Linked DNA regions of Homo sapiens. The protein of the gene in region 3 interacts with the protein of the main gene of each other region in a pairwise test. Each region holds a gene or a part of one and is shown on either strand. Other genes may lie near its edges. The genes, in order: MS4A13, TMEM54 and SLC12A7.

Region 1 (3,751 bases), on a different chromosome or scaffold from region 3:
AGGTTCTAGAGTTTAAAAATACAAGAACTGAAATGAAAAACCACTAGAGGAACTCAAGAACAGAGGTGAGCTGACAAAAAACAAAATAAACAGACATAAAGAGAGCAAAAAAGATATTGCCCAGTCCGAAGAACAGGAAAAAAAGAAAATGAAGAAAACTGTACAGAACCTCAAAATCCTTTGAGATACCATCACATGTATAATGGGAGTCCCATAAAAATGGGGAGTACCAGAAAAAAAATTAAAGAAATAATGGCTCCCAAATTCCCCTAATTTCATGGAAAACATTCAATACATCCAAAAAGCTCAAGGATCTTCAAGTAAAATAAACACAAAGAGATCCTCCTAGACACCTCCATGTCAAACTGATAAAAAAGAAAATCTTGAAAGCAGCAAAAAAAAATAAAAACAAGACTCTTCATATATAAGGGAACCACAATAATATAAACAGCTGGGTTCTCATCCAAAACAATGGAGGCCTGAAGGTAGTGGAATGGGATATTAAAGTGCAGGGGGAAAAACAGTCAGGCAGGAATTCTTTATCCTTTAAAACTATCCCTCAAAAATGAAGGTGAAATACAGACATACACAGATGAATAATGTGTTGCTAGCAGAAATTCCTCATGAGAAACACTAAAGGAAGTTCTTTAGACTGAAGTGACATCAGATGAAACTCAAATGCACATGAATAAATAAAAAAAGTGCCAGTAAAAGTAATTATGTAGGTGGTTATGAAAATCAGTATAAATACATCTTTTGTGTTTTCTTCTGTTAACTGATTTAAAAGACAGTAGCATTAATTGCATTGGGCTCACCCAGGTAATCCAGGATGATTACCTTAATTTAAGGTCGTGTTATTAGTAACATTAATTCCATCTGTCATAACTACTCAGCTCCACCTTTTAGCATGAAAGTATTCATAGACAATACATAAAGGAATGGATATGGCTTGTTCCAGCAAAACTTTATTTGCAAAAACGGGAGTGGGCTAGATTTGGTCCATGTATCATAGCTTGCCAACCCTTCTTCAATAGACAGTTTCTCAATTTTTCTCTTAAATTTTAAAAGATAAGATTATAAAAGCAGTAATTATAACACCATATTGGTAGTTACATAATATATATAGATAGAATAGATGACAATAATAGCACAAAGAAAAGGAAAGGGAATGAGTTATATGGGAATAAAGTTGCTGTATTTTACTGGAATTGAATTAGCATTCATCTGAAGTAGACTGTGATAAATTAGGGTGCTTATTTAGTGATTAAGCAAGCTAAAAATATAATAGCTTAAAAACAAGGGAATTAACATACACAAAGTATGTTTAATTTTTAAAAAATAAAGAAAGAACACAATGGCCAGGCTTGGTTGGTTAACACCCATATTCCCAGCATTTTGGGAGGCCAACTCGGGAAGACCATATGAGCCCAGGAGTTCAAGACCAGCCTGGGCAACATGACGAGACCTCATCTCTACAAAAAAGTAAAAATAAAAACACTAGCTATGCATAGTGCCACATGCCTGTGGTCCCAGCTACTTAGGCAGCTGAGGTGGGAGGATCACTTGGAACCCAGGAGGTCAAGGCTGCAATGAGCCATATTCAGGCCACCGTACCCCAGTGTGGGTGACAGAGTAAAACCCTATCTCACAAAAAAAAAAAAAAAGGAAAGGAAAAGAAAACACATGAGACGTGTATAAAACAAATAATAAAATGTCAGATATAAATCTATTCATTGTAATAATAACATTAAAATGACAGAGATATTTTAAAGTACCTACTGGAATGACTGAATTTCAAACTATTGACAATGCCAACTGATAGCAAAGATTGTAGATAAAAGAAATATCTCTCAAACTCCTAGTTGAAATATAAGTTATTGCAACAATTTTTAAAACCTTTTGGGCATTACCTACTAAAAATTAAAATGTGCATACCCTATGATCAGTAATTTAAGTCTTTGGTATATAACCAACAGAAATGTTTGCGCTTATGCATTAAGATAAACTTCCAGGAATATATAGAGAGCAGTATTATTCATAGTAGTCCCAAAGTGGAAACAACACAGGTGGGTGAGTGATGAATAAGTTGAGGTGTATTACTTCATTCAAATTTGACATGGTGATTAAAAGCAACTATACCTGCACTTAACATCATGGATGGATCTTACAAATAAAATGTTGAGTATAAAAACTCAAAAGAATGCATACTTGTAAAAAAATCCATTCATATGAAGTTTGAAACCAGGTAAAACTAAAGCTAACCTATAGTGTTTAGGGATGAAGCTTAGTTCATGAAACTAGAAAAAAAATTGACCTTATCTAAAAGTCAAAATGACCATTACCTTGAAGGGAAGGAATAGGTAATGGTTGAGAAATGTCATGAGAGGCTAGGGTGCTGGCATCTATTAAGATTTATGTTCAAGAAGACTATGGTTATTTTTATTATAAAAGTTTGAAGGTACACCAAAAGATACAAGTGATCCAACAGAAATTAAGAAAGTAGGTTGAAGGCTGGGCATGGTGGCTCACACCTGTAATCATAACACTTTGGGAGTCTGAAGCAGGAGGATCACTTGAGGCCAGGAGTTCAAGATCAGCTTGGTCAACATGGTGAAACCCCGTCTCTACTAAAAATACAAAAAAATTAGCCAGGCATGGTGGCACAGGCCTGTAATCCTAACTACTCGGGTGGCTGGGGCATGAGAATCTCTTGAGTCTGAACCTGAAAGAGAGGTGGTTGCAGTGAGCCGAGATCGCACCACTGCACTCCAGCCTGGGCGACATGACCTTGAAAACAGAACAAGACCTTGAAAAAAAAAAAAAACCCAAGGAAGGAAGGAATGTAGGAAGGAAAAAGAGAGAGAGAGAAAGAAAGAAGAAAGGGAAGAAAGGGAGGAAGGGAGGAAGGAAAGAAAGAAAGGAAGGAAGGAAGGAGAAAGAAAAAGAGAAAGAAAGAAAGAAAAAGGAAAGAAAGAAAGAGAAAGAAAGAAGAAAGGGAGGAAGGGAGGAAGGGAAGAAAGAAAGAAAGAGAAAGAGAAAGAAAGGAAGAAAGAAATAAGGTTGAAATAGGAATGGGACAGAAATAGGATACTTTAAGATTTCACTCTATAAATATCAGTATTACCTGTATTTTTTAAGAAAAAGATCTATTTATTAGTTGTATAATATTAAGAAACATGATATGATTTGTAAGAGGTTACTTTTTTTCCAGTTTCGAAGACAAAATGATCTTACATCTGTTACTGAGGAAGCTGAGAGCACTCCTTAAAAACCCTAGAAATATGAGAATTTTGCTGTTGCTGATGCCTGGTGTGGGTCCTAATGATATCTCTGTATAACAAAGCAGTTACGAAGCCTACAGATTTTGTGCAAAATAAAATACAAACAAGGTGAATTTTTCTCCTCATTCAAAAATGTCTCTGCTTATATTTTTCTAGGCTGCAAGGAAAGTTTTTCCCTATTTAAATATGAGATTATTACAGGATGAATGTGTTATCTAGGTACGCTGAATAGCTGTCAACTCTCCATAATAAAGCTTTTGTAAGAGACTGTAAAAAAGATTCATTATTATCTCTAGAGTGAAGGCTATAAAGACTTGGGCCATGATGTCGTATAATTCACAGGAAAACTTTAAATACTTATGTCCATACAAGCAGAAAGCACATTTTACAGTCTGAGTTCTTCTACTTTAACTAGCTTCTATCAAAGTATGAATCAAAAGGCCTCTAATTCATATTTCCTTCATTGTTCT
Region 2 (3,751 bases), on a different chromosome or scaffold from region 3:
GGAGGCCACAGTGAGCTATAATCGTGCCATTGCACTCCAGCCTGGGCTACAGAGCCAGAGACCCCGTCTAAAAAAAATGAAATCTCTACACTGGACGCTCTGGGACATCTGTCTGAAGCTGTGCCAAGAGACAGTCCCCAGGGAGCAGGAAGGGATGGGGCTATTCAGTCACAGACTTGCTGTGTGACCATGCACCAGCCCCTCCCCTCTGGGCCCCAAGTTCCACATCTATAAAATGGGGAGGCATTGGTCCAGCCAGTGTCTGAGACCCCTGGAGACTGCAGGACCCTCTGGAGCTGAACCAGGTCTAGCAGAAGCAGAGGGCAGACGATGGGCTGGACAGGCACCATGAGACTGGAATAGCATTGTGAAGATGGACTGCCAGCCAAGCAGGAAGGGGCATGGCAGCTTCAGCGCAGGAGCCTGACCCACCTCACCCCCTCCACCCACCTACCTGGGAGCTCGGTGTCTACCTTCCAGCTGAGGGCTGGACTCAATAACAACAGCATCCCAGGACCAAGACTTTGGTCAAAGAGGAGGCACGGTGCCAGCATGGGGCTGTGCCTGGAGCACTGGACTGAGCCTGGAGCAGTCCTTGACTTTTTAAATTAAATTGATTGAGACAGGGTCTTACTCTGTAGCCCAGGCTGGAGTGCACTGGCCTGATCGTGGCTCACTGAAACCTCTGCCTCCTGGGCTCAGGTGATCCTTCCACCTCAGCCTCCTGAGTAGCCGGGCTAAATTTTTTTTTCTTTATTTAAATTTTTTGTAGAGACGGATTTCACTATGTTGGCCAGGCTAGTCTCTCCTGGACTCAAGCGATCCGCCTGCCTCGGCCTCCCAGAGTGCTGCCTCCCAGATGAAGCCCAGCTGGCTTCATTTGTCTTACCACTGTGGGAGCGCATAGCAGCGCAGCCGGCAAGGTGCTAAGCGCTTTACTCTTAGAAGCTGCCCTCATCCTCATAGTAGTCCTAGGAGGTGGGAACTACTGTCCCCCTCTTACAGACAAAGAAACTGAGGCTCACAAGGTCTCTCGGCTAGACAGCGGGGATGCCCCAGGACTCTGCTGCCCACAAGCAGCATCACCGTGCCCAGGCAGTGGAAGGAGGGGGCACATTAGTCCCGCTCCCCCGCTGCTGATCCTTTTTGCCCACGGCTTTCCTTCCTGGCCTCGGGAGAGTGGAGAGTATGTAAGTGGGAGCCCCTTGTAAGGGTGGGGAAGCTGAGGCCTGGCCCCGGGGTCCCTTCTGGGTAAGATGGGGCTGCTCTCTCCAGCGTCTCCTCTGCCGCCCACCCGGGGGTCCCCGAGGGCAGTCGTGCGCCTCCGCAGGAAAGGCAAGAGAGGGCGAGGGTAAGAGACGCTACAGCCACATCGAGAAGACACCCGCAGCGCTCCTCCCCTCCATTTCACTGCTGGGGAAACTGAGGCCCAGAGAGGAAAGTGACCCGACCCCGGCCTCGTAGTAAGTTAGAGGCAGAGCAGGTGGCCTGGCCCCCTGGGGGCTCGGGTTCCGGGCTCAGTGCTCCGCTCCTGTGGGAGGGTTGGGGTGGTTCGGGGCCTCCCGCGCGCCCCCAGTCGCTCACCGAGGCGCAGACACATGTCGGCTCCGCGCTGGTCCCGCCCCCGGCTTCAGCGCGGCTCCCGAGGCTGCGGGCCGCCGGGGGACCCTGCTCCCATCCCGCTGGCCCGTCGCCCGCGCGCCCCGCACCGTCGCGCTCGCCCACTTCCCGCCCGGAGCCCGGGGCTGGGCGGCGCCGGACCGGCCTCCCTTCCCGTCACCCCCCGGGCCGCCCGGCCCCGCAGCGCCCCCGCGGCTCGTGCCCCTCCCGGCCGGTCGGACCGGCTGAGCAGCCCATGGCCCGCCCGCTGAGTCAGGCGCCGCCCCGCCCGGCCCGCCCGGCGCCGAGCCGCCCTCCCTCAGCCCACCGGCGGCGGCGGGCCCGCTCTAGAAAGGGAAACTGAGGCTCTGAGGAGCCGCCCCGCGCGGGCCCGCGGCAAGTTGGGGGTTGCCGGCGTAGCTGTGGTTACCGTGACTTGGGTGTGGCTCTTGGGCGGAAAGCCCCCGGGCCCAAGGCTGGGACGGAGAGGGGCAGCAGGGGCAGTGAAAGAGCTGCTGGGGATTGGGGTCTGCCCCTGCCTGCTGTGTGACCTCAGGCAAATCGCCTCCCCTCTCTGCGCTTGCCTTTAGCGCCCGCGAGTCTTGTCTTCCACGCTGAAAAAGGCGCTTTAAGTCTCCTTCTTAGTCGGGAGGGCCTTCAGTTCCGTCCTTGGAAAATCAGGGATAATTCCTGTCCCCGAAGGTCGTGGTGAGACAAAATAGGATACAAAAATTAGGTAAGAAAGCGCTTTCGGCCGGGCGCGGCGGCTCATGCCTGTAATCTCAGCACTTTGGAAGGCCTAGGCAAGCAGATCACCTGAGGTCAGGAGTTCGAGACCTGCCTGGCCATCATGGTGAAACACCCCCGCACCCCCCCCCCCGCCCCGTCTCTACTAAAAATACAAAAATTAGCCGGATGTGGTGGGGCAAGCCTGTAATCCCAGCTACTCTGGAGGCTGAGGCAGGAGAATCGCTTGAACCCGGGAGGCAGAGGTTACAGTGAGCTGAGATCTCGCCACTCCATCTCAAAACAACAAAACAACAACAACACGCTTTGGAAACTCTCCAGACTGTCTGTATGGACAAAGTGTAGACCTAGCAAGAGCACATAGTAGGAGCTTTATTAGTACTGCTCTGGGTTGCTGAGCCCTTTAATGTGTCAGGATGGACCCCAGTGAGGTCCCTTGTTAGTCTCAGCATCCCTTTGGCATAGGTACCATTCCTGCACCTTTGGGCTCAGAGACCACAGACCACTCACCCAAGACCACCAGCTGGAAGTGGTGGAGTAGGCAGGAGCCTGGAATCCCCTTGGGTCTCTGTGCCCAAGTTCTGTAGAGTGGCCACACCGTGGCCACCTCCCTGGGCTCTTTCGGTCCTTGGAGGCACTTACTATGGGAACTGGGCAACATCTGTTCACAGCTTGCCCCACTTACCCCACTGGGCAGTGTCCCAGAGGTCAGGGGCTGGCTGGCTGTCTCTGGGTGCTTGGTTGGAGCCTGTCCTGGGGGCTGTCCACTGTCTGTGTGTCTTTCTGCACACCTGTGCTGACACCTGCGGCGCTGTGTGTGTTGGGCAGTTGGGTCAGATGTAGAGCCTCTGGAGTTTGGAGAACGCATTAACACCATGGGAGGAAGTGGAGCCATTTCTCCTAGGAAGCCCCCCGGGGCATCCCATCTGGTAACCCCCCAGCAGAGCTGCTTCCCTGTCACCTGCTGTCTGAAGGGGGATAATGTGCAGGGAATTCCGGGTGGGGAGACATATTTGTCAGGTGGAAGGGAAGATGGGGGCAGTTTATGAAGACATCGGGCTGGCATCGGAATGTTGATGTCCTCAGACAATCTTTTAGTAGGGCAATTTGGGTAGTACTTACTCATATTATAAATGTTCAGACACTTGTGGCCGGGTGCGGTGGCTCATGCCTGTAATCCCAACACTTTGGGAGGCCAAGGTGGGCGGATCACGAGGTCAGGAGATCGAGACCATCCTGGCTAACACGATGAAACCCCGTCTCTACTAAAAATACAAAAAAAAAAAAAAAAAAAAAAAAATTAGCCGGCGTGTTGACGGGCGCCTGTAGTCTCAGCTACTCAGGAGGCTGAGGCAGGAGAATGGCGTGAACCTGGGAGGTGGAGCTTGCAGTGAGCCGAGATCGG
Region 3 (3,331 bases):
ATGGTGGCTCATACCTGTAATCCCAGCACTTTAGGAGGCTGAGGCAGGCAGATCACTTGAGGTCAGTTCGAGACCAGCCTGGCCAACATGGTGAAACCCCATCTCTACTAAAATACAAAAATTAGCTGGGCGTGGTGGTACACGCCTGTGATCCCAGCTATTCGGGAGGCTGAGGCAGGAAAATAGCTTGAACCTGGGAGGCGGAGGTTGCAGTGAGCTGAGGTGACGCCACTGCATTCCAGCCTAGGCAACAGAGACTGTCTCAGAAATACAGAGATTGGGTCACTTCAACACACAGCACTAGGAAGTTTGGGGTAAGGTCATTTCCAAGCCGATGACATGATTTGGAAGCCCTCGTCCAATTCATATGGTCACTCTTCAGCCACCTGAGTTGGCTGTGGCTGGTCAGCCCTGACGCTCCTGCTAGAAAAGGGGCGGCCAGTACATTTTCTCCAGCTGTCTTTCATGCTGAATGAGACTCAAGAGATTCTTCAACGTACTCAGATTTCATAGGATTTTATTTTTCTACTAACACAGACAGACAGGGAAACCTACAAAAGGAAACGGAGTCAATTGTAAATGGCTGTAGTTACTGGTTACACGGAGTTGACAACACAAAGGATGCCTGGTGCTTGCGTGCAGAGGCTGCAGCCCAGGGCGGGGGCAGAGCTGAGCCCTCAGGAGGTGGTTTCGTGTGCAGAACTGAGCGGCCCTCAGAAGCAGGGCTGTTTTCCAGCCACCAACCAACGTTCAGAGCCAGCACCATGTGGCCGCTGTGCCTCTAGCCTGCTCTCCTCCAGGTGCAGGGGACACAGGACCTGCCGGCCCCATCCAGACATGGAGGAGCGTTTTGCTGCTTAACTCATGCTTAGCCAAGGCAGGCAGAGGCTGTGGGAACTGCTGAGCCCCGCTGTGATGTCTGGGACACGCTCTGGGCAGCAGCCGTCACTCTACAGCAATGCCAGCCCTAGTCTGGCTCCTCAGAAACATCTGGGGGCACAAGTGCAGCCTCTGCCCCGATTTGAACTTTGTTGATGGGGCTGATTCCCTTGGGAGACCATGCAAGCCAGACGTAGCCCAAGGCCTGGCCATCTGGGGCCTCTAGTATATAGAAGCAACCTCTTTATGGACAACCTTGTTACCACGTAACTCCCTGGGGTGTTTAAATAAATAAATATGCCACATAGAAAGGGAGGCCCAAGTCGGTGCCACTGCCCGCAGCCTGCAAATGTGACCACAACCTACAAAGCAGAAACTCACAGCCAGCCGAAGTGCAAAGTGTTGGGCCCTTGAAAGCTATCTCTTCAGTGCCACCGCCGCCTCCATGCAAGGCACAGGCCATGGCAGGGGACGCCCGGGACTCAGCCAGACAGACCTGACACCAGGCGCCACTGCTGCCTGAGGACCTCCCACGTCGGGTCCGTGTCCTCCTTCCCTGGAGCACCGGGGTGGGGATGGCACGTGTGAGCCAGCTCAGAGGCTGAACTGTGTGCCGTGCTCCTGGGGTGGGGTGGGGTGGGGAGGGCAGTCCTGGCTGTCGTGGGCTGTCGGGGGAACTCACTGTTCACTCTGCGCGCGTGTGCCCCTGGGTTTCAGTGCATTTGCCTGCGTGAGGCACTGATCGCACCTGTGGCTGTGGGCTGGGCCCTGTCAGTGCTTATGAAAAGAAGTGGCTGGTTTTCTAAAGGTGGATGGAGACTCGGACAGCTGCAAACACAGCCCGGCATGGCAGAGCCACAGCTGGGGGCCCCTTCCCGGAGCGTAGGCCCTGATGAACTGAACGTGTTCACCACACACCCGACAGATGATCCACCACGTTCTGGAAAAGCCGAGTTCCCTTTCCAGATGGCCCTGGCCCACGCCTCAGCTCATGAAATGTGGACCTGCCGAGCCCAGAGGCTCCCACACGAGGGTGACACGGGCATGGACAGAGTCCTCCAGCTTCAGTGCCTTGAGGTACAGAAACACAAAGACAGTCAAGGAACAGAGTGACTCGGAGGTGACCGGGGCCCTGAGCGGAGCCATGGCCAGGGCTGACGTTTCACCTTCATCATCAGGGACAGCTTCAGCTCCGGGTGCTCTTCCAAGAATGTTCTGGATGGGGTAGAAATGCAACCTAACCACTGGGTAAATCCAGCCAAGGAAAAGAACTTCCAGAAACCAAGGCAAGGGCTCACTGGCTTCTTGTGACCTGCGAGAAGATCTGGCCACGTCCAGGTCACTCCGGTAGCAGCGTCTGCCCTCAGATGCAAGGAAATCGTCCAGCCACGCCCTGATTTGCTGAGCCTGTTAAGGCTGAACAGGAGAGCCCTAGGTGACGGGCCTAGAAACTTCCGTAGGAAGCCCCATGGGCAGCTTGGGCGGCATCACTGGGGGACAGGTGTGTCTGCCGTCTGTTTCCCTGGGCCAAGCCCAGGCCCAGGCTGCCCACGCCGTCCTCCGTGCCTGTCCCAGAGTGCCGTGATGCTGTTGGGCATTAGGAGTAGATGGTGATCACCTCCCGGCCGCCACCCCTGACCAGGAGGACTCTGTTCAGCCCCTCGGTCAGGACTTCAAGAAACTCCATGTCTGTGGTCAACAGAGTTAAGGCCACAGCTGATCTTACCTGAGCGTGTGTAGCTGAAATCGTGATAGGAGTGAGGTTTATCCTCTCCTGGTTAGCTAAGATTTGGTTTGAGAAACCCAGAGCCAAGGTGAAAAGAGAGGTGGGGATTAGAGAGACCCCCCAGGCGGGGAGGAGCAGGGCAGGGGAGAGAGGGGCCAGTGCTCGGGAAAGAGAGGGAGCACCGTGGCCACAGGGAGGACGAGCAGAGACAGCGACACAGCCCACGGTGCTGACCCCACCCGACAGGGAACCCCAGCCACGGGACTGGGTCCTCACCAGCCTACAGGGGACCTGGGCCACGGATTCCGATCAGGACGCATGGAGGACATGCCCTCACTGGCCCCAGTTCTTGGTGCCAACCTGGCAGGGATGTGCCAGGCGTCACCCTGTCTGTGCCAATACGCCCAGATGCACTGCGGAGTTCTCCTTCCAAAGCACAAATTCCCAAAGCTGCGACCAATTGTGGCCTTAAAGCCGAGAGCTGGGCTCCTCACCTCCCACCGTTGTCGGCGCAGGGTGGGGCTGAGCCCCAGCGGAGGTCCCAGAATGCACAGCTGCTGTGGGGATGCATGACAGGGAGCCTCCCAGCCCCAGGGCAGCCCTGAGCACCTGGGGACAGTGGGGCTGGTACTGTAGGCGGGCCCTCCCTCCCCCACACCAATGCCAGGGCTGGCCCCAACTCTGGCCCGGTCACCACTGGGCTCAGAGCCCCACTGCATCCCGGTC

The links.
Region 1: the proteins of SLC12A7 (region 3) and MS4A13 interact in binary tests that used the Homo sapiens proteins (3 or more experiments, as listed by UniProt).
Region 2: the proteins of SLC12A7 (region 3) and TMEM54 interact in binary tests that used the Homo sapiens proteins (3 or more experiments, as listed by UniProt).

What each region holds. Positions count from the first base shown.
Region 1 is NC_000011.10:60,539,308-60,543,058, forward strand, and holds the end of MS4A13 (membrane-spanning 4-domains subfamily A member 13), read left to right. Parts: intron 1-3,211; coding exon 3,212-3,268; 3' UTR 3,269-3,414; downstream 3,415-3,751. UniProt on the Homo sapiens protein: May be involved in signal transduction as a component of a multimeric receptor complex.
Region 2 is NC_000001.11:32,899,639-32,903,389, forward strand, and holds the start of TMEM54 (transmembrane protein 54), read right to left. Parts: upstream 1,752-3,751; 5' UTR 1,601-1,751; coding exon 1,585-1,600; intron 1-1,584.
Region 3 is NC_000005.10:1,049,884-1,053,214, forward strand, and holds the end of SLC12A7 (solute carrier family 12 member 7), read right to left. Parts: intron 2,569-3,331; coding exon 2,477-2,568; 3' UTR 501-2,476; downstream 1-500. UniProt on the Homo sapiens protein: Mediates electroneutral potassium-chloride cotransport when activated by cell swelling. May mediate K(+) uptake into Deiters' cells in the cochlea and contribute to K(+) recycling in the inner ear.